Linked DNA regions of Homo sapiens: region 2 is linked to region 1. Evidence: fine-mapped expression QTL. A gene starts in region 1. The other region holds a variant in brackets. All regions are shown on one strand. Distances are between the middles of the regions. Region 1 holds the start of ZNF780B (zinc finger protein 780B). Region 2 overlaps ZNF780A (zinc finger protein 780A).

The links.
Region 2: its variant is fine-mapped to the expression of ZNF780B in whole blood (TOPMed, PIP 0.98).

What each region holds. Positions count from the first base shown.
Region 1 is chr19:40,047,371-40,064,374 of GRCh38, reverse strand. It overlaps ZNF780B (zinc finger protein 780B), which reads left to right and starts at 8,144. Exons shown (of 5, transcript NM_001005851.3): 1 at 8,144-8,186; 2 at 13,998-14,051; 3 at 15,579-15,705; 4 at 16,905-17,000. The coding sequence starts at 14,043. RefSeq lists an enhancer at 8,155-8,284.
Region 2 is chr19:40,068,352-40,085,355 of GRCh38, reverse strand. ZNF780A (zinc finger protein 780A) reads left to right here. Exons shown (of 6, transcript NM_001142578.2): 3 at 558-611; 4 at 2,119-2,245; 5 at 3,442-3,537; 6 at 9,147-12,311. The coding sequence starts at 603. The coding sequence ends at 10,840. Among named protein-coding and RNA genes, the nearest start is that of ZNF780A, 14 kb to the left of the region's middle. The variant C/T (reference allele first, on the strand shown) is at 8,094.

The DNA.
Region 1 (17,004 bases):
GGCAGATTGCCTGAGGTTGGGAGTTCAAGACCAGCCTGGCCAACATGGCAAAACCCCGTCTCTACTAAAAATACAAAAATTATCTGGGCATGGTGGTGTGCACCTGTAGTCCCAACTACTCGGAAGGTGAGGCAGGAGAATCGCTTGAAACCAGGAGGCAGAGGTTACAGTGAGCTGAGATCATGCCACTTCACTCCAGCCTGGGCAGCAAAGTGAGACTCTGTGTCTCACACACACAAAATGGTAATTATAAAAGGCAGCATAAATGCACATTTCTTTTACTTTTTTCTCTTAATAGATTTAAAAAGCAATTGTATAATATGTACATAATTGTATTATTGGCCATATGACATGGAAATGTAATATATTTGACAATAGCAGCATAAAGGAAGTAAATGACAGCAGAGTTGTATTGGAGTAAAGAAATGATACGCGATAGTAACTAGAATTCATAGGAACAAATAAAAAGAAGTAGAAATAGTAAATAAAAAGCTATATATCAAAAATACCATATAAATATATATATACTCTATTCCATCCTTAATAGACATAAACCTATACAGAATAAGTATAATAATGTATTTTTGAGTCTGTAGCATGTGTAGACATAATAATGTAGAACAATAATAGAATTGAAAAGTAGGATAGATTAGAACTATATAAATAACATTTATATATCTCACTGGGATCAAGTTAGTATTATTCTGAAGCTGATTCTAAGATGTATATAATAAACCCTACAGCAGCCATTAAGAAAATAACAAAAATACAATGAATAAAAAATTTAAATGTGTTATTATAGAAAATCAACACAGAGGAAGGCAGTAAGAAAAGAAATGTGGGACTGGGTGAACTATAGAAAAAAACAACATGGCAAAAATAAGTCATTCCTTATCAATAGTTACTTTAAATGTAAACGGATCAAACTTGGCAATCAAAAGACATAGATTGGGAGACGATAAATGAACGAGATCCAACTAAATGCTATCTATAAGAAAGTCACTTTAGATCTAAGGACACACATAGTTTGAAAGTGAAAAGATGGGCCGGGCGCAGTGGCTCACGCCTGTAATCCCAGCACTTTGGGAGGCCGAGGCGGGCGGATCACCTGAGGTCAGGAGTTTTAGACCAACCTGACCAACATGGAGAAACCCCGTCTCTACTGAAAATACAAAAACTTAGTCGGGCTTGGTGGCGGGCGCCTGTAATCCCAGCTACTTAGGAGGCTGAGGCAGGAGAATGGCGTGAACCCAGGAGGCGGAGCTTGCAGTGAGCCGAGATCGTGTCACTGCACTCCAGCCTGGGTGACAGAGCGAGACTCCGTCTAAAAAACAAACAAAAAGAAAGTGAAAAGAAGAAAAAAGATATTTCATGCAAACAGCAATTAAAAAGAGTGGGCATGGCTGTATTAATATCAGACAAAATATACTATAAGTTAAAAAAGGTTAGAAGAGACAAAGAATATATAATAAAAGGGTCAACTTACCAAGAAGATATATCAATTACAAATACATATACACTAAACACCTGAGCTCCAAAATATATGAAGGACACATTGACAGAATTGAAGGAAGAAATAGACATCTATGCAATAATAGTAGGAGACTTCAATACACTACTTTTAATAATATGTAGAGGAACAGGACAGAAGATAAATAAGGAAATAGGGGACTTGAACCAATTGGACCTAACACACATATATACATAACATTTCCACTCAACAATAGCAGAGTGCACATTTTCCTCAAGTGCATGTGGATTATTATCCAGGATAAACTATGTCTTAGGCCACAGAAGAAGTCATAATGTTAAAATATTGAAACTAGAATTCAATAGCATAAGTAAAACTGTAAAATCCACAAGTATATGAAAACTAAGCACACTCTAAACTAGTGGATCAAAGAAGAAATCAAAACAAATGAAAATGAGGTAAATGAAAATGAAAACACAACATACCAAATTTATGGGATGCAGCAAAAGCAGTGTTAAGGGAATTTTATAGCTGTTAGTGTTTACATTAAAAAAGAAGAAAGATTTCAAGTCAGCCCCCTAACTTTATGCCATTAGAAACTAGAAAAGAAGAAGAAACTAAATCTGAAGCTAGTAGAAGGAAGGAAATGAAAATATTAGGCTTGAGATTAACATATTAGAGAATAAAAAATAGAGAAAATTAGTAAAACTAAGAGTTGGTTATTTGAAAAGCTCAACAAAATTGAGAACCATTAGGCAGATTGATTAAGAGAGGAAGACTGAAATAACTAGGATCAGAAATGAAACAGGGAACATTCCATTCCTACCAACTGTATACTAATAAAAAGCATTATTCAAGAGTACTTTTTACAACGGTATTCCAATAAATTTGATAACCTAGACAAAATGGAAAAGTTTCTAGAAACACACACCTTTCTAAGACTCAATAATGAAGAAATAGAAAATCTGAATATACCTATGACCAGTAAGAAGAATGAATAGCAATCTAATACCTCCTAACAAAGAAAAGCCAAAGACTACATGGTTTCACTGGTGAAGTCTACCAAATGATTTTACATCTTTATTCTTTTCTAGCACTATAGGCATTTAAAGCTAAAAATAAAAACATATTTAGCTGCTCCAAAAATTTGGATTGTTTTTGTTTTTATTAAAAATACATTCTAGGCAAGGTGCGATGGTTCATGCCGGTAATCCCAGCATTTTGGGAGGCCAAGATGGGAGGGTTGCTTGAGGCCAGGAGTTTGAGACCAGCCTGATCAACATAGTGAGATTCTCATCTCTATTTTTAGGAAGTAAAATAAAAAATACATCCTAATTTCTCTTATAATTTATTCTTTGATCCATGGGGTATTTAACAATGTGTTGAATAATTTCAAAATATTTTTACATTTCCCAAATTTCCTCAGTGTTTGATTTCTAATTTTATTTTCACTGTGGTCAGAGAATATACTTAGCATGACTTACTTATAAAAAATATTATGATTTGCCATATATAAGTCTAGTATATTGTTTAGTTTAGAAAATGTTGCATGTTGAGTATGTATTTTATTGTTGGTTGAGTGTTCAACCAACCATCAGTTAAGACAAACTAGTTTGTAGTGTTGTTTAAGTCTTCTATATCCTTGCAGATTTTCTGTCTAGTTGTTGTATGTATTGAGAATAGAGTGTTAAAATCTCCACCTTCTATTGTTGAGCTGTCATTTTCTCTCTTCAGTTTTGTCAGTTTTCCTTTCATGTATGTAGTCTCCTGTTTTTAGGAGCATATACGTTCATTGTAGTTATATTTTTCTAATTAACTTGCCCTTTTATCATTAAATAAATCTCTTTTTCTTTAGTAACATTTTGAAAGCCTGTTTTGTCTGATGGTAGTATAACCATTCCTATTCTCTTCTGATCACCATTTGTATGGTATCTATTTGTATCTTTTTCCATCCTTTTGTTTTCCGTCTGTTTTCAGCTTTTAAAAAGAACTAATGTATATCTTAGCTTAAAAAAATCTAATTGAGATTATTGCTAAAATAATAACAGTAGTCGTCAGGCATGGTGGCTCACACCTGTAATCCCAGCACTCTGGGAGGCTGAGGTGGAAGGATTGCCTGAGCCCAGGAGTTCACGACCAGCCTGGGCAATATAGTGAGACCCTGTCTCTACAAAAAATTAGAAATAAAATTTTAAAAATCAAAATAAATAAAATAATATCAATAGTATACAGAAAGTTTACTCCAATATAGCTCCCTTCCTTTGTGCTATCATAGTAATATGAATGTGACACAAATTACAACTTTATACATTATGAACAAAATAATACAATTGTATAATTATGGTTTTATGCAGTTATCTTTAATCAGTTAAAATAAAAAAGTAAAAGTGTATATTATCTTTTATTTACCTATGTAATGACTTTAATCAGTGCTCATTATTTCTTTGTGTGGATTCCAGTGACCATCACCTTCATTCTAAAGAACTTTAATATTTCTTATTAGGAAAGTCTGCTAGCAACAAAGGCTTTCAGTCCTTATCTGCAATTCTCTTTATTTTATCTATATTTTGAGAGAGAATATTCTGGATATAGAATTCTTGGTTGACTGGTAGGGTTTTATTTGTTTTTGTTTTGTTTTGTTTTGTTTTTTGTTTTTGTTTGTTTTAGTACTTTGAATCTCATCCCACTGCCTTTTGTTCTCTGTTGTTTCTGATGAGAAGTCAGCCAGTAGTCCTGTTGAGAATCTCGTTTATATGATGAATAATGTTTCCCTTGCTGTTTTCAAGATTTCCCTTTGTTCTTGGCTTCTGACAATTTGACTCTGGGGTAGCTCTCCTTGAGACATGTTGATTAAGTATTAATATCTGGGTTTATCCCACTTGGAGTGTGTTCACATTCTTGTAAATGTAGGTGTGTGTGCATGTGTGTGATCAACTTCACAGAGAGTTTGGCCATTATTTTTCAAGCATTTTTTCTTTTTCTTTCCTTCTGACCCTCCTCTTATATGTATGTTGGTTTGCTTGATGGTGTACTACATGCCTCTGATGCTTTCTTCATTTTTATTCCTTCTGTTTTTCTTTCTGTTCTTCAGACTGCATAATTTTATTGACTTGACCTATTTTCAAGTTCACTAATTCTTTTTTCAGGTTAAATCTGCTATGAGTTCTTCTAGTGAATTTTTCATTTCAGTTATTGTGCTTTTCAACTCTAGAATTTCTACTTGGTTCTTTCATTGCAGTAATAATTTCCATCTCTCTGTCGATAGTCTCTGGCAGGGTATTATTGTCATACTCTTCTTTAAATTCTTTACATATGGCTTGTTTTAGTTCTTTGAACATAATTAAAATAGCTGCTTTCAGATCTTTGCTAAATCCAACATTTTTGCTGTCTCAGAGACAGTTGTCTACTAGCTGCTTCATTCCCATCCCCTCTGAGTGAGCTACTTGGATTCTTTAGCTCCTGTGAAAGTTTGTTCATGCATAGATATACGTTTAAATTGATGTTTCTGTGAGAGCTAAGTGCTGGAAAGTCCCATTCTTCTATCTTGCTGACATCACTCCTGTTAAGATTTTCTATTTTTTCTTGAGTCAGTGATAGTTTGTGTGTTTCTAGGACTTTTTCCTTTCCATTTAGGTTATTTTGTTGACATACAATTGTTTATAATTTTCTTCTATCATCATTTTCATTTTTGTAAGTTTAGTAATGTCTCCACTTTCAGCTCTGACTTTAGTAATTTTGATGTTTTCTCTTTTTTCTTGTTCAGTCCTGCTACAGTTTTGCCACTTTTTTTGATCTTTTCAAAGAACCAGCTTTTAATTTTGTAAGTTTTCTCTATTATTTTTCTATTTTCTATTTAATCTAACCTCACTTTTATCTTTATTATTTCCTTTCTTCTCCTGGTTTTGCTTTTTTTTTTTTTCTATTTTTCATATTCTAATTCCTAAGTGTATACAGTTAGGTCATTGATTTGACATCTTTCCTCCTTTTTATAGGCATGTAGAGCTATAAATTTTTCCCTGAGCAGTAAGCATCTCATGAACTTTAGTAAATTTGTATTTATCTAAAATGTTTTCTAAATTCTCTTTTTATTTGTTCTTTAACCCTTTGGTTGTTTAAGATTCTGTTGATTTGGCACAAAACAGTGATATCATCTATCCTTACTCCTATTCAGTATAGAAATTCAACAGAATTTCAGTTATCAGAACTTGCCAACATGAAGACAATGGGATTTAGTCCTACAAATTAAGGAAGAAACTGAATAAATAAAGTCATGAACTAACGTATTATATACAGGATTTAATTTTGAAATTCTTCAATTTTGCATAGGACTTTCTTCAGCTATGGCAGTAGTCTTTTGATGGTGCTCCCATTTCTAACTGGATACATTTACAATTTGTGTTAGAATGGAATGCAATTGAGAAGGTTTATGTTTCCGTAACACCTAAATTTGGCTTAACATTCAAAGGTATCATAAATTGAGCCAATTTGTTTGGCTTTAGGAATAATTTTTAAATAAATGTACCCTTCCTAGACTAAGTGGCAAAAAAAAAAGTAGAAATGTACTGTGAAGGCAAAATACATCAACTGCTAAAATATTTGCAATCTAATATTCCATATTCACAATACTCATGAGGATATTTTCCATTTCATTGGCTATATTCTAAGACTTCTGATTACCTTAGTATATGCAGAGTATATATCTCAATTTAAAAGGTATGGTGTTCAGAGAAGCGCCATTTGAAGGTAGCTATAATTTCAAGTTTATTAACCATAAAGTCCAGCATTGAGGATTACATACAATTTTATCAAAATTTAAAAATAATAGACTGTGTCAAAAAAAATCCTTAAAAATATGGTGATACTGGCTAAGAAATTGATTAAAGCATTGGAATATATACCAAAAATAATTATTCTGCTCTTTAATGCATAGTCAATATAGATAGCTTAAAATTTTTTCCTTACTACAAAAACATTATTTTGTTTTAATGCAAATATGTTATTGTTTACCCTTTAGGATATAACAGAAAATTATGACTCATAAAGGAAATTTTCAAACATTATATAATTTCAATTATCATAGTATTCATACATTTTCAAATTTTTACTACTTTGGACAATATATAGTGAGCTGTTATTGATTTCTAATTTAATTCCATTTTTGTCAAAAACATTCTTTGTATGACTTGAGTCCATTTACTCATTTATGGAGACTTGCTTTATGGCCCAGAATATGGTATACGCTGGAAAGTGTCTCCTGTCCACCTAAGATGAATTTTACTGTCTTTGAGAAGAGTGTTCCAGAAGTGTAAATGAGATCAAGCAGGTTGATATGTTGTTTAGATAATCTATACCCTGTTGCTTTTCTGCATTAGTTCTATCAATTACCAAGAGAGATATGTTGAAATATCTGATTATAATTGTGGATTTGTCTGTTACTTTATTGATCTAACAGGTTTTTACTCACATACTTAGAAGCTGTATTAAGAGCATAATTTAGGTTTGTTCTTTCCACTGGATGAACTGTATCCTTCATCATTATGATGATGTAACTTTCTTTATCCCTGATATAGTCTTTTTGGTGAAGTCACTTTGTTTTTAATATAGCCACTCCAGCTTTCTTTTGACTAGTGTTAGGATTTTATATATTTTTCCATCCTTTTACTTTTAACCTATTAGTGCTTTTATATTTTAAGTATTACCTGTAGGTAGCACGTATTTGGGTCTGACTTTTAAAAAAAAAATCCAACCTGACAACCTTCTTAAGTTAAGGTGTTAGACCAGTTACACTTAATGTGATCATTGATCCAATTAAGTTTGTTATCTTGCTATCTGTTTTCTGTCACAGTCGGGAATGAAAAGACATTTTGCTCTTCATTATTCCACGTTTCCGCTTTATATAGCATAGGAAACTACAAAAATCATTTTGAAAGTTCAATGTTGCTAGATTACAACAGTGAAATCAAGCTTTTCCTACGAAAAACAAACCCCCTTTGGCATTTATTTAGACTGTTTTAAGAAAATGTGTTAATTATTCATCCTTCAAGATAAGGCAAGTAATTCTCTGTGTACTTTTATCTGTTTCCATGCCGTCCTGAATCACGTTTTTCTCTCCAGATAACAGGAAGATTGTCTTGAAGAATCAAGTATATTTGATTCTGAAATCTCTCATGTAAACCACACTTCCTCTTCTAGTATAAAACCAACGATTCCTTTTCTTTCTTTCTTTCTTTTTTTTTTTTTTTTTGAGACGGAGTCTCTCCAACCATTTCTTTAGTTCAGGCTTTTCAAATTTATCCTAAGTCCCTTCAAATAGCACAAAGGGGAAGCCTATGCTCGGATCTGAGACGAAGAGGTCAAAGCAGCTACATTTTGACGTAATTTTACTTTAAATTCTTCTTTAAAAGTTCTGCTCATTTGCATTCTTTTGCATAGAGAGAAAAGGTAATTTACCCTGACGCACCGAAAACAGCAACGCTCCTCTCAGATGGGGATTCTCGCCCGTGGCCGCAACCTCTGCACCCCACGGTCTGGAACTCCCACAAATCCATTAGGCTCGGGTCCCTTAGGAGCCCCCAATGTATGCTGGGATCAACCTGAACAGACCATAGACCAAGACTTCTGAGGTTCTTTCTGCTCAGGACTGTATTTCCCAGAGGCCACCGCACCGGAATTAGCGGTTCCACTTCCTGTCTCCTGGGGTTGACGACCTAGCTGGGTAAGGTCTTCACGTCCTAGGAAGAAATCGGTGGCTGCGGGAGGTCTTCGTGGACTGGGACTCGAACCTGACCGACCCGGCAGTGCGGGTGGGCGAGAGCGAGGCGCTCAGAGGAGGAACCCGGGGCGCAGACGGAATCTGCCAGATCCTTAGGCGTGCGTGTGCGCGGGCATCAAAGGATGGGGATTGCGCGATCTTGAGTGACGGAGGGGACTGTGTGAGTGTGTGCGTGAGGCCCTGTGCACAGGACCGGGACGGCGTGTGGACGCAGTGCGTTTTGCTGGGGCTGTGTGAGTGTCACTGTGCCGGTGGTACTAGGCTCCTGCTGCTTCCTCCGTCTTTCCCCTTCAAAGCTGCAGAGGCTGCAGCAGAGGAATGAAAATGTCCCCAGTAGGGAGGTTAGATATTGAACCGAGAATGAAGCTTTGCACAAGAAGGCGCAGATCTGGACTCGGGGTGGGAATATGAGAGCTGGAAGTGCCTCTTGAGGGTCCCCCAGGAGGGCAGCTACATGTTGAGAACCCAGCGTCCCTCAGAGATCTGTCCCCAGGAACCAGCTTCGAACTCAGACCGATTCCTCCTCCTTTTATTTCCTTCTCATTTCGTACGAAGTGAGGGAAGTTGTGGCCATGGAGGGTGCTTTCAAACTTAGTCTGCGCTCCAAGAAAAGCCTGGAGTCTCACGCTTGCCGTATCCTTCTCCAGTCGTATTATTATCCAAAAGAAGGACCGAGAGGAGGATGAGAGCGTTATTGTTGCACACTTAAGTCAAGGGTGAGTTTGTGCTTTGTATTTGTTCAAGAAATGCGTTTTTGATTTTAGAATATAGAGGTTCCTGTAAATTTTTAGTGAATTTCAGGAGAATATGCAAATTGATTCTTGCCCCCTCCCATTGTGCCGCCTCCCAGCGAGCCGTTCCCCACCCCGCCCGCTCCCCACCTTGCCATTTAATATTCACAGAGCCATTTGGCAAATCGTTCACACCTTCCTGTACGCTCTCTTCTTCTAAGCTGGTATAAAAATAGTCCTCCAGAGGTTTATATTAAAGCTTTATTTTAGACTCTGCTTTGAAAAGAAGATTAGTTTGTGGAATCACACGCCAGGTTTCTGACTCTTTACAGGCCTCCTTTTCCAAGTAGGGAAGAATGGAGATGGTTGGGTGATTTCCATTCGTCTGTGAGGCTTTCAGGAATCGGAAAGTGATTGCACAGAAATTGGTATCAACCAGAGTCAGGATTTTTCGGGAGAGTCCATGAGATGATAATTGTAATACTTGCCAGATCTCTGTGAGATTCGGCAGTTCCGGTTGCATTTTGGGCTATTTGTGTGAACTGTGAGAGGCAGTACGCTGTTGCGGTTAAGAATAGGGGAGTGGATCCAGAGTATCTGGGTTGGAATGTTTGTTCTGTCCGTTTCTGGTCTTCTCAGGCTTGTAATGAACATTAGAATGAATTAATACTCTAAAACCTCTTAGAGCAGTGCTAGGCATATAATAATAAATGTTTAATGTTTTAGCTTTTGTTTTCGTGTGGTCATTTTAGGTCATTTCCCTTGACTTTCTATAGGACAGGAGCATTGGGAATATGTGATTCATTGTGATTGCTGCTTGCATAGTAAGAAAATGAGTGAGTTGCTCAAATGATCTAGGACAGAAGTTCTTTTTAAATTGACAGATAAAATTGTATGTATTTATCGTGTGCAACATGATGTTTTATAGTATATGTACATTGTGGAATGACTAAATCTAGCTAATTAGCAATGCATTACCTCACATAGTTATCATTTTTGTGGTGAGAACACTTAATATCCACTCTCTTAGCACTACAGAATAGTTATTAATAGTAGTTATTAATAGTAGATACGTTGTTGTGTAATAGATTTCTTGAGCTTATTTCTCTTATCTTCCTGAAATTTTATATCCTTTGACCAACATTTCCCCAGCCAACACCATCTTCCCTCCCTCACCCACATTACCCCCGACCTGTAAACACCATTCTCTTCTCTAATTCTATGATATCAAGTGTTTTCTTTTTTTGAGAGAGAGTGTCTTACTCTGTTGCCCAGGCTGGAGTGCAGTGGCGTGATCTCGGTTCACTGCAACCTCTGCCTCCCGGGTTCAAGTAATTCTCCTGCCCCAGCCTTCCGAGTAGCTGGGACTACAGGTGCATGCCACCACACCCAGCTTATTTTTGTATTTTTAGTAGAGACAGGGTTTTGCCATGTTGGCCAGGGTGGTCTCGAACTCTGGACCTTAGGTGATCCGCCTGCCTCGGCCTTCGCCTCCGCTTTCGAAAGTGCTGGGATTACAAGTGTGAGCCACCGCACCTGGCCTATATGAACATTTTTCAGATTCCACTGATGAGTGAGATCATCTGCCTTTCTGTGCTTGGCTTACTTAATATGAATTTCTCCAGGTTCATCCATGTTGTTGCGAATGACAGCATTTCCCTTTTTTTATGGCTAGTTTTCCATTGTGTATATATACCTGCATATATACCACATTTTCTTTATCCATTCATTGATAGACAGTTAGATTGATTCCATATCTTGGCTATTGTGAATAGTGCTGCAATAAACATGGGTGTGCAGGTGTCTCTTTGGTATACAGATTTCATTTCCTTTGGATAAATATCCAGTAGTAGATTGCTGGATCATATGGTGGTTCTATTTCTAATTTTTTGAGGAACCTCCATGCTGTTTTCCATAATGTCTGTGTCACTTTACATTCTCACCAACAGTGTGCAATGGTTCACATTTCTCTACATTCTCACCAACATTTGTTAACTTATGTCTTTTCAATAGCCACCCCAACACATATGAGGTGATATCTTATTGTAGGTTTAATTTTCATTTCCCTGATGATTAGTAATGTTGAGTATTTTTTCATATACTGTAGCCATTTATATGTCGTCTTTTGAGATGTGTTTATCAGGTCCTTTGCCCATTTTTTAATTGGGTTGTTTTCTTGCTGTTGAGTTCCTCACACGTTTTGGATATTAACCCCTTATTAGATACATGACTGCAAATATTTTCTCTCATTCTGTAGGTAGTCTCTTCACTTTGCTGTGCAGAAGCTTTTTTAGCTTGATGTAATTTCATTTGTCTATGTTTGCTTTTATTGCCTGTGCTTTTGAAGTCATTTCTAGAAAAAAAAATTATTGCCCAGATCAATGTCATGAAGCTTTCCCCGTACGTTTTTTTCTATTTGTTTCATAGTTTGGGATCTTACATTTAAATCTTTAATCCATTTAGAGTTGATTTTTGTATAATGGTTTGAGAAAAGGGTCTAATTTCATTCTTCTGTGTATGACTCCCCAGTTTTCACAACAGTATGTATTGAAGAGACTGTCTTTTCCTTATTGTATGTTCTTGGCACCTGTCTCAAAAATCAGTTGGTTGTAAACATATGGATTTATTCTGGGGCTCTCTATTCTGTTCCGTTTGTCTAGGTGTCTGTTTTTATGTCAGTATCATGCTGTTTTGGTTACTATAGCTTTGTAGTATATATTGAAGTCAGGTAGTTTGATGCCTCCAACTTTGTTCTTTTTGCTCCAGACTGCTTTGGCTATTTGGGTCTTTTGTGGTTCTATGCACATTTTAGGATTTTTTTTTTTCTATTTTTGTCAAGAATGTAGGACTGAAATTCTTAATCTGAGTTCTTGTAACTCCACGTATGGTCTTGGGGACCACAAAGCTCTTGAAATAATGTATTGAAGTACTATGGAAATTTATCAATGTGGGTTTTAGAGGGAGAAATAGTATATCATTTCATAAGACTATCAAAACTGTATGTGACCCATGAGGTTTGGATCCATTGATCTAGATAGAACATTGATTCTCAGCGGGGGTGATGTTTAAAAACTTTTGGTTGTCACACCATGGGGGAGGTGCTACTTAGATCTAGTGGATAGAGGTCAGGGATACTGCTGAACATTGTACCGTGCACAGGATAACCCTCCCTATAGCCCCAACAAAGGATTATACAGCACAATATGTCATTAGTGCCTAGGGTGAAAAACCTTAGTCTAGAATCAAAAGATTGTGATACCTGGAATGACACTGTAAATGATCTTATATAAATCAAGTGTCCTGTAATATGGAAATCACTAAGCAAATTATACTAGACTCAAGTGATAAAGTATTATGCAGCTAATAAAATGATGTCTATAAAGAATTATGAAAAGAAAAATATTTGATATACCATTAAGCAGTATTCATGCTATGAACAATGATACTCAAGAAAATGTTACATGTATATGAATCCCATATACTAAGATAGGGTTTTTGTAAGGCATTCTGTAGGAATTGTATCCAAAATGATATTTTAATGAGTTATTTGGTGAAGAAGGGAACCAAGCATGGTGATGTACATTCCACAGATTTTCTCATGTAGTTTCCAGATGCCACTTATCTGCATTGTGTTCATTCAGAGAAGAGTCTTGATAATGAAAATGTCTAATTATATTGGTGAGATACAGCTAAAGGATGTCAGAACTAGCTGATGTTATTTGTTATAGTCACATTAATCTTTTTGATCCTCATGACAGGCACAGTTTTTTGTTTTTTATGATTAAAAGTACTCACTCTCTGTTAACTCTGTTTTATTTTTATTTTTGAATTCGGATGTAGAAATATGACCATCATTAATGCATACAAGAAATTAGTTGAAGACTTGTAGACAATTTTTTTTAGAAATTGTACTAACATACATAGAAAAACATAGACATCTTAGTGTTGGTCAAGAATTGGGAAATAATGGAAACAAATTTATTACATAAAAACAAGAGCTCAGTAGAGTTTCCTTTTTTTGTCCCCACGTTGAAAGGAAAATGTCTAAATAAAAGATGTCTTTCATCTAATTTGGAGAACAATTTCCTCGCAAGAAAAAAAATGTGTATGTACATTTAAATATGTACATATATAGATACATACACATGTGTATATGTGTGTATATATGTGTGTGTGTGTGTGTGTGTGAATATAATTATATATTCTAAGTTAAATGCCTGGGCATAGTCACAATTATGACATACTCTTTAGCAAAAAGAAGAAAATTGGGGCTACAATACAGAGATAAGCACTGTTAGCATGCATATACCTGTCTAAATTTTTGTATTGATGTCTATTAGTCTTTTGCTTAATATTTCTATATACATATATTTTACAAATGTAATCGTATTGTTTATCCTGCTTTGTAACCTGATTTTTCTGTTAATCATATGTCTGGAACAATTAATGATTACTTTGTATTCTATTACATGGCTATTCTGAACTGTACTTACCCCAGCTGGCTTTTGGTGAACTCAGAATGCTGAACACTGCCCATGCAATTCTGTCTATATCCTTTCCAGTTCTCATGCCTTGCCCCACTGCACCCAATCCTGAGTTCACAAAGAGGTTCTGGATTGGATGATGCAAGCCCTTCTCAGCTCTGAAAGGTGGACTAGGGGAGGAGGATTGCTTACAGCAGGATCAGAGGCCCAGTCCTAGGCCAAGATTGGTATCCCAAGAGTGGAGGACTGGCTGGAAGCCACAACTTCAAGGCAGAAATGCCTGTGCTCGGCATTCATGCTTCCGCCGCAGGTTCCCTGGGATGTAGGCGAGAGCTTGGTTTCATCCACACTCCACCTGTTCACTGCCAGTTTATTTGTGAGAGTGTGTGTAGGGAAAAAGGGAGTGACGGGAGAAGGGTGGAAGTGTGCGTGTGAGCAGGAGTAGTTGAGAAATAGGAATGGAGGATAAAATATTTATTCGTTCTAGTGCTTTCGGACACAGCTTGACTTAGGGCCTTTTTGTTGTTGTTGTTTTCCAGGGGAGAAGCCCGAGGAAGATTGACCAATTTTGTAATTCTAGAAACATGGTCCATGTAAGTTGGTGTTTCTGTCTTCTTGAAATATGGTGACTTTCAGGTTAGGTTAGGTGACTGTTATTATTAAACCTGAACCTTCTTACGTAAGGATCCACGATTTTTTTTTTTTTTTTTTTTTTTTTTTGAGACGGAGTCTTGCTCTGTCACCCAGGCTGGAATGCAGTGGTGCGATCTTGGCTCATTGCAACTTCCGCCTCCCAGGTTCAAGCAATTCTCCTGCCTCAGACTCCCGAGTAGCTGGGACTACAGGCACCCACCAGCACGCCTGGCTAATTTTTTGTATTTTTGGTAGAGATGGGATTTCACCATATTAGCCAGGATGGTCTCGATCTCCTGACCTCATGATCCCCCTGCCTTGGCCTCCCACAGTGCTGGGATTACAGGCGTGAGCCACTGTGCCTGGCCAGGATCCACAATCTTACACCCCACTTTGTCCCATTACAGTGAAGTTTGGTGACCAAAAAATAAAAGTCAGTGCTCTTCCTATTCGTACCTCTGTTTTCCCACTGGCTTTGATGTTTTCTTTGAGCAGGTTATTCAGTCTGTGCTTAACTCAGTCCTTGGTCAGAAAGAATGTTGGAACAGTGGAGGAGTTGGTCCCCACAGGGAAACATGGTCTTGTGGGTTTGATAAGTTACAGATGATTGTCGCATTTGACCACACTCGGGAACACCTTGAAACTCCTCCACAGACTGGAGCTTTCTAGGTAGCTGAGGTAGAATTCCATAGTGAGTGGCCTCAGTCTGCAAGCGTGACAAGGTGTTCTGCTTTATGAGGCTTTTAGGAAAGTGATCAGTGAGGACAGTGGGCAGTAACAGAGATTATTCAGGGCATGAGTGGTAGGTGATTACAGATTCTCTGAATTTGGGAAAACCTTAGAGACTCTGACCATCTTAAATGTATAAATAGAAAAATATGACTAAATCTAATATGTCAGTTATTTTGAATTTTACGCAGCTTATAAAAATCATTTGTCATGACAAGAAAAAATACTTTTGCTATCATCTGATACCACAGTAAGCTTGAGGATTAACGGCATTCCTCAATTGTATGCTGCCACCTTTTTTTTTTTTTTTTTTTTTTTTTTGAGATAGGGTCTCACTCTGTAGCCCAGGCTGGAGTGCAGTAGTGCCATCACACTTCGCTGCAGCATTGAACTCCCAGGCTCAAGCAATACTCCCACCTCAGCTTCCCAAGTAGCTGGGACTATAGGCACATGCCACCACGACAGTTCTTTCTTTCTTTCTTTTTTTTTTTTTTCCAGGGAGTGCATCTCGTTATGTTGCCCAGGCTGTTTGCCAACTCCTGGGCTCAAGCAGTCCTTCCACCTTGGTCTCCCAAAGTGCTGGTATAACAGGCATGAGCCACCACACCAGGCCAGCAGCAGGATTCTTGAAGAATGTGTAGGCACTCTGCGATTTTCCATATTGCTCCTTTATTGCAGTTTAATCCTTCACTTCCTCTCCTTTCGTCTTGAAACAACTTTCTTCAATTTCACCATAATCCATGTGTTTGTGGTTTCAGGGATCAGTGACATTCAGGGATGTGGCCATTGACTTCTCTCAGGAGGAGTGGGAGTGCCTGCAGCCTGATCAGAGGACCTTGTACAGGGATGTGATGTTGGAGAACTACAGCCACCTGATATCACTGGGTAAGGTCATTGGTCCCAGTTATTTTTGTATCTGTTCTCTGGAATATCAGCTTTCTTCATCATGAGTTTCAGGGCTGTCTTTTAAGAGGTAGTTGGATTCCTTCTTCTTATTCCCGAAGGAATGGATTGAGATTTGTTGGGTTGAAAACAGGCACCTCCTTGGAGCCTCTGCATCTTGCCTACTGCACCAGGGCCTCCTCCATTATGCTGGTCATCTCTGTAATCCCCTCTCTCTCTTCATGACCATGGGGCTGAATTTGAAATCTTGTATATTCGTTGAATGATATTGTTCAAGAACCAGGTTTCATATTATGTTTGATCTCAGAATTACTGTAGATTTTCTTTGTTTGTTTTTGTTTTTCTGGCCCACCTGTAAGGAGAAGAGTGTGTTGAGTTTTTCTATTAAAAGAGCCTCTATGATTGCTTGAACCTGGGAGGTCAAGGCTGCAGAGAGCCGTGGTCATGCCACTGTACTTCAGCCTGGGCAACAGAGCAAGACACTGTCTCAAAAAAACAAAACAAAACAGAGCCTCAATGATTTACATATACTGATTGGGTTGACAGAACTTATTTAGCACTAAGTCAGTATATTCCATTTCCTTCGACAGACCTTCCGTTACTTGTTTTGTAGTTGAAAGTTTCAGGCCATGAAGTGTATGCTTTTCTGTTGGGTGAAAATTCTTAAAATGAGCTGTAAATGTCTAAGGATGCAAAATAAATAATGACAATAAACATAATAATTTTTAACTTTGTGCTACTACGTATGAGTGAGAGTTAGAAGTATTTTACATATATTACCTTATTTAATATTAGTATCAATCCTATAAAACAGGCATTATTATATTTCTGTTTTAGAGTTGGGAAAACTGAAGGACAGAGAGTTCAAGTGACTTACTTAATGTCAAAGTACTAGTGGGTGGCAGAGACAGGATTTCAACCAGGTAATCTGGCTTGAAGTTTCCTGCTGTTAACCACTAAATTATACCTCCTCTTGAGGGATAAGTTTCTATTATGAGTTTAAATGAAAGTGCTTTTTTTTTTTTTAAACATAGTTGATCCCTTACTCAATCCTCTCTTATCTGGAGTCTCTTCTCAATATTGTTTTGGCTTGTAATTTATTATAAGTTTAACTAGGTCTCAGGGTTTAAAAAAAATTTTTATATTAAAAAAATTCTACATGTGTTATTTCTTTTAAGCAGGAAGTTCCATTTCTAAGCCAGATGTGATTACATTACTAGAGCAAGAGAAAGAGCCCTGGATTGTTGTAAGTAAAGAAACAAGCAGATGGTATCCAGGTAA
Region 2 (17,004 bases), 21 kb before region 1:
TCTGAACTGTATTAACCAACTGGCTTTTGCTGAATTTAGAATGCTGAACACTGTCAGTGCAATTTGGTGCAAACACTGCCAGTGCAAATATGCTTTCCAGTTCTCATGCCTTCCCCCACTGCACCCAATCCTGATTTCACAAAGAGGTTCTGGTTTGGATGATGCAATCCCTTCTCAGCTCTGAAAGGTGGGACTGGGGGAGGAGGATCTGCTAAGGGCAGGATCAGAGGTCCAGACCTAGGCCAAGATAGGTATCCCAAGAATGGAGGACTGGCTGGAAGCCACAACTTCAAGGCAGAAATGCCTGTGCTCGGCATTCATGCTTCTGCCGCAGGTTCCCTGGGATGCAGGCGAGAGCTTGGTTTCATCCCTACTCCACCCGTTCACTGCCAGCTATTTGTGAGAGAGTGTGTGTGGGGGCAAGGGGAGTGATGGGAGAAGGGTGGAAGTGTGCGTGTTAGCAGGAGTAGTTGAGAAATAGGAACGGAGGATAAAATAGTTATTTGCTTTTGAGACACAGCTTTAATTGTGGCCTTTTTGTTGTTGTTGTTTTCCAGGGGAGAAGCCCGAGGAAGATTGACCAGTTTTGTAATTCTAGCAACATGGTCCATGTAAGTTTGTATTTCTCTCTTTTCCTTGAAATATGGTGACTTTCAGGTTAGGTGACTGTTATTATTTAACCTGAAGCTTCGTACCTAGAATTCACGATCTTACACCCCAGTTTGTCCCATTACAGTGAAGGTTGGTGACAAAAAAAAAAAAAGTCACTGCTCTTCCTATTTGTACCTCTGTTTCCTACTGGCTTTGATGTTTTCTTTGAAAAAGTTATTCAGTCTGTGCTCTGTGCTCAGACCTTGGTCAGGAAGAATATTGGAACAGTGGAGGAATCAGTCCCCACAGGGAAACAGGGTCTTATGGGTTTGATAAGTTACAGATGATTGACCACACTTGGGAACACTTTGAAACTTTACAGACTAGAGCTTTCCAGGTAGCTAAGGTAGAATTCCATAGTGAGTAGCCTCAGTCTGCAAGTGTGACAAGGTGATCTGCTTTATGAGGCTTTTAGGAAAATGATAGGTGAGGACAGTGGGCAGTAGCAGGGAGAAGATAATTCAGGGCATGAATGATAGGTGATTACAGATTCTCTGGCTGGACATGGTGGCTCACGCGTGCAATCCCAGCACTTTGGGAGGCCGAGGTGGGTGGTGGATCACTTGAGGTCAGGAGTTTGAGACCAGCCTGGCCAACATGGTGAAACCCCATCTCTTCTAAAAAAAGAAAAAAAAAAATTAGCCTGTTGTGGTGGTGCGCACCTGTAATCCCAGCTGCACAGGAGGCTGAGGCAGGAGAATCGCTTGAACCTGGGAGGTGGAGGTTGCAGTGAGCTGCGATCGTGCCACTGCACTCCAGCCTGGGTAACAGAGTGAAATTCTGTCTCAGAAAAAAAATAAAAAATAAAAAATTCTCAGAATTGGGGAAATCCTTAGAGGCCCTGGCCATCCTCAACGTATAAATAGAAAAAAAATGAATAAATCTAATATGTGAGTTCTATTGACTTTAATGCAGCTTATAAAAATCAGTTGTCATGACAAGAAAAAATACTTTTGCTGTCATCTCATACCATAATGAACTTGAGGATTAAGAACATTCTTTAATTGTATGCCACCTTTTTTTTTTTTTTTTTTTTTCTCTGAGACAGAGTCTTGCTCTGTGGCCCAGGCTGGAGTGCAGTGGCGTGATCACAGTTCACTATAGCCTTGAACTCCTGGGCTCAAGCAATACTCCTACCTCAGCCTCCCGAGTAGCTGGGACTACAGGTACGTGATACCACACACAGTTACTTATTTAATTTTTGCAGAGATGGGATATCATTATGTTGCCCAGGCTGGTCTCAAATTTCTAGGCTCAAGCAATCCTCCTATCTCTGCCTCCCAAAGTGCTGGGACTATAGGCATAAGCCACCATACTCAGCCAGCAGGAGACTTCTTGAAGAATGTGCAGGCACTCTGTGAATTTCCATATTGCTTTTTTCTTACACTACACTCCTTCACTTCCTCTCCTTTCATCTTAAAACAACTTTCTTCAGTTTCACCATTATACATGTGTTTGTGGTTTCAGGGATCAGTGACATTCAGGGATGTGGCCATTGACTTCTCTCAGGAGGAGTGGGAGTGCCTGCAGCCTGATCAGAGGACCTTGTACAGGGATGTGATGTTGGAGAACTACAGCCACCTGATCTCACTGGGTAAGGTCGTTGAGTCCCAGCTATTTTTATATCTATTTTCTGGAATATCAGCTTTCTTCACCGTGAATTTCAGGGCTATCTTTTAAGAGGTGGCTGAATTCCTTCTTCTTGTTCCCAAAGGAATGGATTGGGATTTGTTGGGTTGAAAACAGGCACCTCCCTGGAGCCCCTGCATCTTGCCTACTCCACAATGGCCTCCTTCGTTACGCTGGTCCTCTCTGTAATTGCCTCTCTCTTCATGACCATGGGGCTGAATTTGAAATCTTGTACATTCATTGAAAGATATTGTCTAAGAACCAGATTTCATATTATGTTTGATCTCAGAATTACTGTAGATTTTCTGTTTGTTGGTTTGTTTTTGTTTTTCTAACCCATCTGTAAGGAGAAGAGTGTCTTGAATTTTTCTATCAGAGAAACCTCTATGATCACTGGGAGGTTGAGGCTGCAGTGAGCTGTACCCATCACTGCACTCCAGCCTGGGCAATAGACCGAGACCCTGTCTCAAAACCAAAAACAAACAAACAAAAATGTCTGTTATTTACGTATACTGATTGGGTTGACAGAAATTCATTTAACACTAAAGGGAATGCATTTCATTTCCTTCAATAAACATTCCATTGTTTTGCAGTTGAAAGTTTCAGACCATGGAGTTTATGTATTTTCATTTAGTGAATATACTGAGTGAGCTATAAATGTCTAAGGATGCAAAATAAATGACAATAATAAACAATAATTCTTGACTTTGTGCTACTGTACATCAGGCAATGTTAGAAGTATTTTGCATATATATAACTTATTTTGTCTTAGTATCAATCCTATAAAATAGGTATTGTATCATCCCCATTTTAGAGTTGGGAAAACTGAAGGACAGAGTTTAAGTGACTTACCTGAGGTCATACTGCTAGTGAGTAGCAGAGATAGGATTTGAACCTGGCAGTCTGGATTGAAGTTTCCTGCTCTCAACCATTCAGTTATACCTCTTTTCAAGGGATAAGATTCTGAGTTTAAATGAAAGGAAGTCCTTTTCTAACATAGTTAGAAAAGAGTTCTCTTACTCAACCTCTCACTCTTATCTGAAGTCTCTTTTCAATATTGTTTTGACTTGTAATTTATTGTAAGTTTAAGCAGGTCACAAAGATTTGAAAAAAAAAAATCTGTATTAAAAAAATTCTACATGTGTCGTTTCTTTTAAGCAGGAAGTTCCATTTCTAAACCAGATGTAATTACGTTACTAGAGCAAGAGAAAGAGCCCTGGATGGTTGTAAGGAAAGAAACAAGCAGACGGTATCCAGGTAAGTGAGGGTAAAGCAGGCGGGGGGAAGCCATCATTGTCCTGGACATGTGCTCAGAAAGGAGTCATACACTTGAGATGTGGTTTGAAAAGCTTTCTTCAGTGACCCAAGTCCTGTTGGATAAAAATGCCCAAGACCTGGGAAGGAAATAAAGATTACAGCAGAAGCCATCACCAAGGAACTTCATCATTTACTAATCACCTAATTTCTGTTCTCTTATTTCCTTCCCCTTTTAGTGGAGTAAGTTCCCTCTTTTTTTCCCAGGGTAAACTTTTTTTTTTTTTTTAAGGTGGAATCTTGCTCTGTCCTGCAGTGTGGAGTGCAGTAATCTGATCTTGGCTCACTGCAACCTCTGTCTGTTGGGTTCAAGCAATTCTCATGCCTCAGCTTCTCAAGTAGCTGGGATGACGGGTGCCCACCTCCACACCTGGCTAATTTTTGTATTTTTAGTAGAGATGGGGTTTCACCATGTTGGCCAGGTTGTTCCTGAACTCCTGACCTCAGATGATCTGCCCGCCTCGGCCTCCCAAAGCCCTGGGATTACAGGTGTGAGCCATCGTGCCCAGCCCATTTGCCAACTTTTTAATTGGATTTTTTTTTTTTTTCCTGTTATTTGAGTCTCTTGTCAGAGAAATAGTTTGCAAATAATTTCTCTCATTTAATTTTGTCTATTCCCTCCGATGATAGTTTCCTTTGCTCTGCAGAAGCGTTTAGTTTAATATAGTCCCATTTGTCTATTTTTGTTTTTGCCGCCTATGCTTTTGCAGTGTTAACCAGAAAATTTTTGCCTAGGTCAATGTCCTGAAGCACTTCCTTTATGTTTTCTTTTAGTTGTTTTATAGTTTTGAGTCTTACATTTAAGTCTTTAATCCATTTCCAGTTGATTTTTGTATACGGTGAGAAATAGGGGTCTGGTTTCATTCTATCACATACGGATATCCAGTTTTCCAGCACCATTTATTTATTTATTTTTAATTTATTTTCCAACTTTTATTTTAGGTCCAAGGGGTACATAAGTGGGTTTTTTATATGGGTAAATTGCATGTTGTGGTGGGTTTGGTGTGCAGATTATTTCACCACCCCGGTAATAAGCATAGTACCCAATAGGTAGTTTTTGGATCTTCGTCCTCCCACCCTCTACTCTCAAGTAGGCCCTGATGTCTGTTTTTCTGTTCTTTGTGTCCATGTGTACTCGGTGTTTAGCTCCCATTTATAAGTGAGAATATGTAGTATTTGGTTTTCTGTTCCTTAATTAATTTGCTTAGGATAATGGCATCCAATGCCATCCATATTGCTGCACATAATCTTGTTCTTTTTTATGGTTGCATAGTATTCCTTGGTGTATATGTACCACATTTTCTTTATCCAGGTAACCATTGATGGACATTTAGGTTGATTCCATGTCTTTGCTATTATGAATAGTGCTACAATAAACATAGGCATTCATGTGACTTTAGGCTAGAACTATTTTCTTTTTTTGTTTCTTCCTTGTCTGGTTTTGGTTTCATGGTATGCCAGCTCCATAGAAAGAGTTAAGGAGAATTCCCTTCTCTGAAATTTTTTGGAATAGTTTGAGGAGAATTAGTTCTTTGAGAGTTTGGTAGATAGAATTCAGCAGTGAAGCCATCAGTCCTGGAGTTTTCTTTTTTGGGTGACATTTTATTACTAATTCAATCTCATTACTCATTGGCCTGTTCAGCTTTTCTATTTTGATGATCTTTTCTGTTTCTGTGGTGTCAGTGGTAATATCTCCTTTTTTTATTTCTGATTTTGCTTATTTCTTCTCTTTTCTTCTTGGTTAGTCTAGCTAGTGGTTTATTAATTTTATTTATGTTTTTTAAAAAACAACCTTTCATTTCATTGATCTTTTGTATTATTTAGCCTGTATTTTATTTAGTTCTGCCCTAATTTCATTAGATCGTTTATTTGAAATCTTTCTGCTTTTTCAATGTAGGTGTTTATTGCCATCAACTTTGCTCTTAGCAGTACTTTTGCTGTATCCCATAGGTTTTGGTATGTTGTATTCTGATTTTCATTTGTTTCAAGAAATTTTTTAATTTCCTCCTTATGTTCTTTCTTGACCCAGTGGTTATATAGGAGCAGGTTGTTTAATTTTCATGTGTTGTACAGTTTCCAAAGTTCCTCTTGTTACTGATTTCTCATTCTATTCCATGTCTGAGAAAAGACTTGATATAATTTTGGTTTTGAAGAATTTGTTAAGAATTGCATCCTAACATATGGTCTATCCTAGAGAATGTTCTGTGTGCTAATGAGAAAATGTGTATTTTGTAGCTATTTGATGAAATGTTCAGTAAATGTCTGTTAGGCCTGTTTTGTCTAATGTGAAGTTTAAATCCAATGTTTCTTGTTAATTTTCTATCTAGATGATCTGTGTAATTCAGAGTGGGGTGTTGAAATCCCCAATGATTATTGCACTGGAATACATCTCTCTCCCTTTTGATCTAATAATATTCACCTTATATATCTGGGTGTTCTGGTGTTGGGATTATAGTATGTTTAGAATTGTTATATCCGCTTGCTGAATTGATCCCTTTATCATTATACAGTGATCTTCTTTGTCTCTTTTTTGCTGCTTTTGACTTAAAATCTTTTTTGTCTGATATAAATATAGCTATTCCTGCTCACTTTTGGTTTCCATTTGCATGGAATATCTTTTACCATTCCTTTACTTTCAATCCATATATGTCTTTACCAGTGAGATGAGTCTGTTGGCAGCATATAATTGGGTCACTTTTTAAAAAATCCATTCCATCTATATCTTTTAGATGAAAAGTTTAATCCATTTACGTTCAATGTGATTACTGATATGTGAGGGCTTATTCTTGTCATTTTATTAATTGATTTCTAGTTGATTTGTGTATCCTTTGTTCCTTTCTTTCTCTTTTATTTTTCATCATTGTGGTTTGGTTGTTTTCTATAGGGGTAACATTTGGGTTCTTTCTGCTTATTTGTGTTTGCTGTGTCAGTGGGTTTTATAATTTTGTGTGTTTTCACAATGGCAGATATTCTTTCACTTCTAGGTGTAGGACTCTTAAGCATATCTTGTAGAGCTGGTCTGCCCTCAGCTTTTGCCTGGGAAAGATTATTTCTTCTTCATTTATGTTTTATAATTTGCTGAGGATAGTATCCTTGACTGGCAAGTTTTTTCTTTCAACATTTTGAATATACCATTTCATTCTCTCTCATTTCTTTCTGTTGAGAAATCTGCTGTTCGGCTAATGAGAGTTCCCTTGTAAGTGACTAGATGCTTTTCTCTTCCTGTTTTTAGTATTCTCTCTTTGTCTTTGACTTTTATATTTTGACCATAATGTGCCATGGAGAAGACCTTTTTGTGTTGTTATGTATTTGGGTATCTCTGAGCTTCCTGTATCTGGATGTCTACATCTCTTGCTAGAATTGGAAAGTTGCCAGCTGTTATTTCATTAAATAGATTTTCTTTCCTTTATTTTTTCTCTTCATCTCTGGGACCTCAAAATTTCAAATATTTGGTTGTTTTATGATGTCCCATATAGGGTCTTTGTTTCTTCTTCTTTTTTTGTTTTTCTATTTTTGTCTGACTGGGTTATTTCAAAAGAATTGGCTTTATGTTCTGAGATTCTTCTACTTGATCTAGTCTGTTGTTGAAGATTTTGAATGTATTTTATATTTTATTCAATGAATTATTCAGTTTCAGAATTTCTGTTTGGTTCTTTTTTATAATGAAATTGGTAAGTTTCTTCTTCTTATCCTGAGTTTTTTTTTTCTGATTTGTTTGTATTGTTCTTCCGAATTCTCTTGTATCTCACTTAGCTTCTTTAATATAATTATTTTGAATTCTTTTGCTAGGATATAGCATTTTTCTCCCATTGGAATGTTTCTGGAGAATTATTATGTTCCTGTGGAGATGTCAAGTTTCCTTCTCTTTTTTTTTTTTTTGTTATTTCCTGTGTTTATTCTCATTTTTTTGAATTTGCTTTTGTAGGGGAGGCTTTTTTCCTAAAGATGTACCTATGGTTAATAGGGTTGGATAGGGCATTTTCGCTTTGATTCTGGGCGTGTGCAGTAGTGTTGTTATGTAGTGTTATGATTTTTTTTTTGGCTGTAAACAGTGCCTTTGGTGTCTGTGATTTCTTCCTTGGCTTTGGTTGTGATGGTTAGTGGAGGGTATGGTGAAGTTTTATTGGGGATGAGGAGTGATATAGTTTAGATATTTTCCCCTCTAAATCTCATGTTGAAATGTAATCCCCAGTGTTGGAGATGGGGCCTGGTGGGAGGTAATTGGATCATAGGGGTGGATTTCTCATGAATGGCTTAGCACCATCCCCTTGGTGCTGTCCTCACAATAGTAAGTGAGTTCTTGCAAGACCTGGTTGTTTAAAAGTATATGGCACTTCTTCTTGTTCTCTCTCTTGTTCCTTCTCTTGCTGTGTGACATTCTTTGTCCTGTGTTGCCTTCTTTTATGAGTAAAAGGCCCCTAAAGCCTCCCCAGAAGCTGAGAAGATGCTAGCGCCATGTACAACCTGCAGAACCATGAGCCAGTTAATACTCATTTTTT[C/T]GTAAATTACCCAGTCTCAGGTATTCCTTTAATGCAAGAATGGCCTAGCACGAGGACACAAGGTAGGCAAGTCCTTGGGCTCTGGTGGTGGCAGTGGCAGTCCAGATGTGCCTGTTTTGGGGCCCCAGCATAGTGTATGCTGGTACTAGTATTAGTGTGTCTAGGCACGTTGATTCTTTGGCCTCCTCGTAGTTTGGATAGTGCTGGCAGTGGTAGTGGTATGCTGGGTAGGTGGATGGGTTCTTGGATTCTTGGGCAGCAAGTGTGGCATGGGTGATGGTAGTAGTAGTGAACAGGACAACCTTCTGGCTCCCAAGCAGTAAGTGCTTAGTGTTGGAGGTGACTATGATGGGCTGGGTGGGCCAGTCCCCAGAACTTCCGGTTGTGAGTACAGGTGGGTACCAGTTGTGGAGGAAACAGCAGGTTGTATGTGTCTGACCTTAGGCCTCTGTGATGAGTGCTTAGGTAGCAAAGGTGGTAGATGGATCAGGGTGATCCCCAGGTCCCCAGATGGTGTGCTTGGGGACTTGGGCACAGAGCTGGGTCTGCTGGACCTGACCTTAGGCCCCCCAGTTGTACGTGCTGGTTCTTGTGGTAAGCAGGGGTGGGGTGATCCCCAGGCCCCTGGCAGAATGCTGCTGTTGATTTTCTTTTCCAATGTGAGTTGAAATTTTCTTGTATATGCCAGTATATTTGGATTGTATCCTGGACATTCTAATTACTGACTATGAAACTATGGGTCTCATGGTCTTAAGTCCTATAGAACATATCAATATGTTTCAACAGATAGTTGACCTAGTTAGGTTCAATCTTCTGTGGTTCATTTTCCTATTTTTACATGTACATAACCAGGCTGGCTCAGATGTGCATTTGCTTCCACTGGAAACAGAAGTGATATGAGAAAGGTTCTATCTACCAACTTTGTTGGTTTTGGCTAATAAAATCAATAAAGGTTTTATTGGTTTGAATTGATGGTTTCAGTTGACAAAAGGACTTTGTATGCATGTGTGTTATACGAAAATAAAATAGGTTTGCTTTCTTCATTTCTTTCAGATTTGGAGTTAAAATATGGACCTGAGAAAGTATCTCCAGAAAATGATACCTCTGAAGTAAATTTACCCAAACAGGTTATAAAGCAAATAAGTACAACTCTTGGCATTGAGGCCTTTTATTTTAGAAATGACTCAGAATATAGACAATTTGAGGGACTACAGGGATATCAAGAAGGAAATATCAATCAAAAGATGATCAGCTATGAAAAACTGCCTACTCATACTCCTCATGCTTCTCTTATTTGCAATACACATAAACCGTATGAATGTAAGGAATGTGGGAAATACTTTAGTCGTAGTGCAAATCTTATTCAGCATCAGAGTATTCATACTGGAGAGAAACCCTTTGAATGTAAGGAGTGTGGGAAAGCCTTTCGACTTCACATACAATTTACTCGACATCAGAAATTTCATACTGGTGAGAAACCTTTTGAATGTAACGAATGTGGAAAGGCCTTTAGTCTTCTTACCCTGCTTAATCGCCATAAGAACATTCACACAGGTGAGAAACTGTTTGAATGTAAGGAATGTGGGAAGTCCTTTAATCGTAGCTCAAACCTTGTTCAACATCAGAGTATTCATTCTGGTGTAAAACCATATGAATGTAAGGAGTGTGGGAAAGGCTTTAATCGTGGTGCACACCTTATTCAGCATCAGAAAATTCATTCCAATGAGAAACCCTTTGTATGTAAGGAATGTGGGATGGCCTTTCGATATCATTACCAACTTATTGAACATTGCCAAATTCATACTGGTGAGAAACCCTTTGAATGTAAAGAATGTGGAAAGGCGTTTACTCTTCTGACAAAGCTTGTTCGACATCAGAAGATTCATACTGGTGAGAAACCCTTTGAATGCAGGGAATGTGGGAAGGCCTTTAGTCTTCTCAACCAGCTTAATCGCCATAAGAACATTCACACAGGTGAAAAACCGTTTGAATGTAAGGAATGTGGGAAGTCCTTTAATCGTAGCTCAAACCTTGTTCAACATCAGAGTATTCATGCTGGTATAAAACCATATGAATGTAAGGAGTGTGGGAAAGGCTTTAATCGTGGTGCACACCTTATTCAGCATCAGAAAATTCATTCCAATGAGAAACCTTTTGTATGTAGGGAATGTGAGATGGCCTTTAGATATCATTGCCAACTTATTGAACATTCTCGAATTCATACTGGTGACAAGCCATTTGAATGTCAAGACTGTGGGAAGGCCTTCAATCGTGGCTCAAGCCTTGTTCAACATCAGAGTATTCACACTGGTGAGAAGCCCTATGAATGTAAGGAGTGTGGGAAGGCTTTTAGACTTTACCTACAACTTTCCCAACATCAGAAAACTCACACAGGTGAAAAACCATTTGAATGTAAGGAATGTGGGAAATTCTTTCGTCGTGGTTCAAATCTTAATCAACATCGAAGTATTCATACTGGAAAGAAACCCTTTGAATGTAAGGAATGTGGGAAAGCCTTTCGACTTCATATGCACCTTATTCGACATCAGAAATTGCATACTGGTGAGAAACCCTTTGAATGTAAGGAGTGTGGGAAAGCCTTTCGACTTCATATGCAACTTATTCGACATCAGAAATTGCATACTGGTGAGAAACCCTTTGAATGTAAGGAATGTGGAAAGGTTTTTAGTCTTCCCACCCAGCTTAATCGCCATAAGAACATTCACACAGGTGAGAAGGCATCTTGAATGTAAGGAATGTGGAAAGTCCTTTAATCGTGTCTCAAACCATGTTCAACATCAGAGTATTCGTGCTGGTGTAAAACCATGTGAATGTAAGGGGTGTGGGAAAGGCTTCATTTGTGGTTCAAACGTTATTCAGCATCAGAAAATTCATTCCAGTGAGAAACTCTTTGTATGCAAGGAGTGGAGGACGACCTTTAGATATCATTACCACTTATTTAACATTACCAAATTCACACTGGTAAAAAACCCTTTGAATGTAAAGAATGTGGAAAGGCCTTCAGTTTTCTGACACAGCTTGCTGGACTTCAGGTCATTCATACTGGCGAGAAGCCATTTGAATTTGAGAAATGTGGGAAGGCCTTCAATAGTGGCTCAAACCTTGTTCAACATCAGAGTATTCATACTGGTGAGAAACTCTATGAATGTAAGGAGTGTGGGAAAACTTTCAGATTTAGTTTGGTCCTGACTGCACATCAAAGAATTCATACTGGTATGAAACCCTGTGAATGTACAGAATGTGGGAAGACCTTTAGTTGTAGCTCAAACATTGTTCAACATGTTAAAATTCATACTGGTGAGAAACGCTATAATGTAAGGAATATGGGAAAGCATTTGCTGTGGATGATCAGCTGTCTCAACATCAGAAAATTCAGAATAGTTAGAAATTTTGTGACAATAAGGAGTGTGGACAAGCCTTCACTGTGTACGAAAAATTTACTCAACACCAGAGAGCTCATATTGATGAGAAATCTTGTGAACATAAAAGAATGTGTGAAGAACTTTCATCATGGCCTGGGATTTGCTCAACTTCTGAGTATTCATACTTCTGAGAAATCTTTGAGTGTAAGGAATGTGGGGCGTTTTATAGCCACACTAAATACCTTAGAGTTCGGAGAAGATAATTCTTGTGAGAAAGTCTTTGAATGAGGAATATAGGGTAGTTGTCATGTTCACAATGTACTCCCTATGAAATAATTTACCAGATACAGGCATACCTCGCTGAATTGTGCATTGCAGTTATTGTGTTTTATACAAACTGAAGGTTTGTGGCAACCCTGTGGTGAGCAAGACGATCAGGTCCATTTTCCCAACGTCAGGTGTGCATTTCATGTCTTTATGTCACATTTTGGTAATTCTCAGAATATTTCAAACTATTTCATTGTTATATATCTATCATGGTGATCAATGACCAGTGATTTTTGATGTTGCTATTGTAATTGCTTTGGGATACCACAAATTCTGCCCATAAAAGATGGTAAACCTAGTTGATACTTGTTGTGGGTTTTGAAAGAATAGTCAAATATACAATCATATACCCCAACCTAGATTCAAAATTGTTAACAATTTGCACGTTTATTTTTTGTATATTTGTTGTACCATTGAGAATAAGTTTTAGACATCATGACACTTTACCCTTTATTTAATCAACGTGTGTATCAACCAAACATGAAGACAATATAGACAATATCATATAGCCATTGTACCATAATTACCGTTAAGGAAAGTATTCATAATTCTGTAATATCATTCCATTTTCAGATTTCTTCATTGGCTTCCAAACCATCTTTTACAGCTATTCATATTCAAAGGAGAATCCATTGCAGAATCTGCATTGCATTTGGTTATCTCTCTTTAGTGTATTGTAGCCTGGAAATCCTATGAATGTAGGCGCTCAAATTTTGGTAGGTATTAGAATCAACAGTGGCACTTAGTAAAGCTACAGAGGCTTAAGCCCTAGCTTATAATTCTGGGCCTCTATGTTTTTTATTATTTCTCCAGGTGATTGTGATACCAACCAGAGTTAGAGAGCCACTGACCTAGAACATTTCTCCTTTCTCCTCATTCTTCTTTTTTTTTTTTTTTTTGCAGTTGCAAGATTTAATAGAGTGAAAACAGAGCTCCCATACAAAGGGAGGGGACCCAAAGAGGGTAGTCGTTGCCGGCTCGAATGCCTGGGTTTATATCCTGATCATTGTCCCTCCCGCTGTGCTCTCAGGCAATAGATGATTGGCTATTTCTTTACCTCCTGTTTTTGCCTAATTAGCATTTTAGCGGGCTCTCTTTCTTACCTGATGGGTCGGGTGTGAGCTGAGTTGCAAGCCCCGTGTTTAAAGGTGGATGTGGTCAACTTCCCATCTAGGCTTAGGGATTCTTAATCGGCCTAGGAAATCCTGCTAGTCCTGTTTCTCAGTACCCCCTCTCAACAGGAAAACCCAAGTGCTGTTGGGGAGGTTGGCCAACAACTGCTCTAATTGCTTCCTGCTGAATTGGGGTGTAGTAGGGGTTGTGCAGTTGAGATTTCCTCTGGAGGGGTGCCTTCGATGTCATTAACATTGGAGCATGGGCTAGCAGGCCGGTCCAGGGGTCCGCGGTAGATTTTAGTCATGGACTGCATCTGGGGCTCCATTTGAAGAATGAGTTGTGGCTTTACAGCTTCGATTCTGGAAAAGACAAACTTAACAAGGAGGTTAAAGATACAGAGATTGAAATGTATGGCCTGCAGTGCAGGGGATTATTTCTTTGGCACACTTCACAGGCCCTGACTATCTGCTTGATAGTTTTGAAAAGGCCTGGTCCATCTCCTCATTCTTAAAAAATGAGATTGAATTTTGATTAGCCCAGGAAAATTGTCTATGTGTTTAGATTTCTTTCTTTATAGTGTCATTTAGTGTTGTTCTCTTTGTTGCATATTCTGTACAAGGGAATTTGAGTCCAGAGGCTCTGTTAGGTCAGATTAAACATTTTGGGGAAGAATACTTTGTAGGCTATTTGTATGGCATATTTCACTGTCAGAAAACATTTAAGTACAGGTCCTTGCATTAGTGAAACTAAGTTTGATCATTTGGGTAAGCTGGTAACCGCCATAAGTCCATTGTAAAGATCTAATTTGTAGTGCATAAATAATCTATGGAGAGACTTTGACCTCTGAATATTTATAATCATGTGTATTTTAGCTGTGGATTGAATACAAAATGAAAATTGAAATAGACTATTCAAAAATGAATGCCATTAAGGTTGTCAACATAAGTCAACTTGTGTGATAAGGCTGACAGTATATTCAGTACAAAATTAGCACCCTCTAGTTTATTCAGGGAGCCAAGATTATTTTGTCTGGAACCTTGTTTTTGTTCAGCATTTATCATCAGCACCTATACATCATGGCTGGTATGTGAGCTGTTGATAAACTTTGAAAAAAATTAAGCCTTTAAATCAAGCTATAAAACATGATACCATTGTGGCATCATGAATTAGAGAGATTAACTTTTTTAAAGATCAATAATAATCCTTTGTGATTTTATTCCAGTGCATTTAAAAATCTATAAAATGATAATTTATATTGATAGCTTTCTTCTTTTTGTGAATATATCCTTATCAGATTATTATGCTTTTGATAGACTACTTAATTCTATTTCTTAACATTTAATTGTATCTATAATCATAGGTAAAGTTATAATTTTCTAAACATTTTTCAGGTTTTGTTAATGCAGTGATCTTATAAATCTTACAAAACGAGGCTATTTAAAACCTGGCTTTCTAGTCTCATGTTCCTATTTTTTATTTCCACTTTCATCTTTTTCATATTGATTCTCTTTGACTTTCTTTTTTGAACTCAACAGATTCCCTGGGTATTAACCCAGCACAACTCCTTTATGGGTCATTGCACATTCTGGTATCTCATTAAGAATTGTCATAAAAAAGAGATCCCAGGAGGCCTTCCAGTGAAACTCTATCATCATGCAATCTTGGGATTTCTAAGTTGGAAGTCACAGTCCCTTTGCAAACATAATAAAACACTTTAAAATATTTGCTAAAGTTACAAACCAATTATGTAAAAATTTAAAAATCACCTACTACTTTTAAAAGCAGAGAAGGCATCCATAGACTATTTCCTTGCTTACAAGCTCAGTGAACATACTGAATTCACTTATAAAAAGAATTTTCTCAATTTTAGTTGCTTTTCAAAAAATTCTTATTCCTTTTATTTGTAATTCTTTGACATTGTTGCTGCTTCACAGTTTTGGTAATTGGACAGTTTGGTCTTTATTATGATATTAACATTTTTACCTGTCCTGAAACAAGGAAATACAATCAAAGAAACAGAAGATTGGTGGACCTTGAACCACATTATGATATCAGATGACCCAGAGTCATGGTTACTAAGTTGCTTAAATTTTTAGTAACAAAGATGTATTAGAAAGTGACAGGTCAATTCAATAATGGTTTTTTTGGATACATTTAATTATATAATCCCCTTAAGTTGTGCTTAGTCAGCAGTATTTAATCTGTTGTCTATTATATATCTAACTGGTCTGTTATGTTTATTATATATTTATATATTGCTTATTCATATCTTATTGGAGTAACTCATTTTTAAAACAATATATTTCATCTCCTAGGAGAAGAGGATCGAGTATGTGTTTTTATTCTTTTTCATTAGGACATTGGGGTATTTTCTTATTGTGAAATGTATTGAATATTTCATTTATTTGGTTTGTGAGTCTGACCTTCACTCCCTAGCACTGATTTTTATTTGGCCCTCCTTTTACCTGATTCATAGGAGTTACGAGTAGCCGTTAATATGGATACATTTTTCCCATTTCTAGTACACTGCCCCTTCCAAAAGTGTCTGGCTTACTCAAACTTTTCTGTATTTGTTCCATCTTGCTTTTACAGATCAATACAAATAGGTAACTATACCTTCTAAACAAACATCAAGTTGGTGGAAAAAAGGCATATGAACAGTTCTTTCTCACCTACTATCAACAAACAGTAAATTAAACATTCCTAACTGCAGCCTCCTTTTGTAAAATTTATAACCATTTATCTTTTGAGTGTGACATGATACTAGATGTATGATAATTACATGTTTTGTGTATCAGTATGAACATGATTTTTAACAGACTTGTTCCAATGAACTATTATAGAGATGGTCCCCAACAATGTCAACTAACAATTTCTCAGCTTTATGATGGTACAAAAGTGATATGTTGCTATAGTTTGGATATTTGTCCCTCCAAATCTCATGTTGAAGTTTGATCTCAGTGTTGGAGGTGGGGCCTAATGGAAGGTGTTTGGGTCATGGTGGAAGATCCCTCATGAATAAATTAATGCCCTCTCTGGATTGAGGGGTGAGTGAGCTATCGCTCTGTTAATTTTTGTGAGAGCTGGTTGTTCAAAAGAACCTGGCACCTCCTCCCTCACCCTCTTGTTTTCTCTCTTGCCATGTGATGTCTGCATACACTGGCTCTCCCTTCATCATCTGCCATGAGTGGAAGCAGCCTGAGACCCTTAGCAGAAGCAGATGCTGCACCATGATTCTTGTACATTCTGCAGAACAGTGAGCCAAATAAACCTCTTTATTAATCACCCAGCCTCAGATATTCTTTTGTAGCAATACAAAATGGACTAAGACATACTCAGTCAGAGTATGCTCCTCAAACTAAGATGGGGCTATGTTAAGTTGAAAATATTGTAGGTCATAAATACACATTTGGCATATGATGTTTTCAATTTGTGATGGGTTTATTTGGATATAACGCTGTCATAAGTTGAGAAGCATCTGTAGTAATTATGATAATTTGATGTGTAGCCAGTAGGAGTCCAGTTACATTTGTTTTTTTGACTTCTTTTTTTCTTTTTTTTTAAATGAATATTGTGTTCAGGTCCTAAGAAGATGTTTTAGACTGATCCTTCTTTGTTGGTCCATGTTCCCCATGCCTCTTGTCCTGAGTCATGGAATCAACCCATGATTCAGTACCCTCGTAGGGTGTCCTGGTTCTATTTAGAGGAAAAGAGCCTTTGAGACCAAGAAATCTGGCTGCTATGGGTGCACATGGCAGTTACAGGTATGGAAGAAGATGCTGGTTTTGTTAGAATTCTTTTAATAGTTTCAGAGTAGAAAATGTCATTGTAAGGTCAGAAGTTCACTCTGATTTTTCTCAACTTACATTTCTATGATCTGCTCTTGTTTGCATTTGATATTTTATTGAATTATAAGGTTTTATGTATGGTGATAGCTGAGAAGTTTATCTCCTGCTAGGGCCTGCCTGAAATGACACATTAATCTGCTTGCCCATTTTTGGAGATATTGGTCTGATTCAAATTTGTCATGGTGTTTCTGAGCAGTGTTATGAAGAACATTCAATAATGGATAATAGATAGATAGA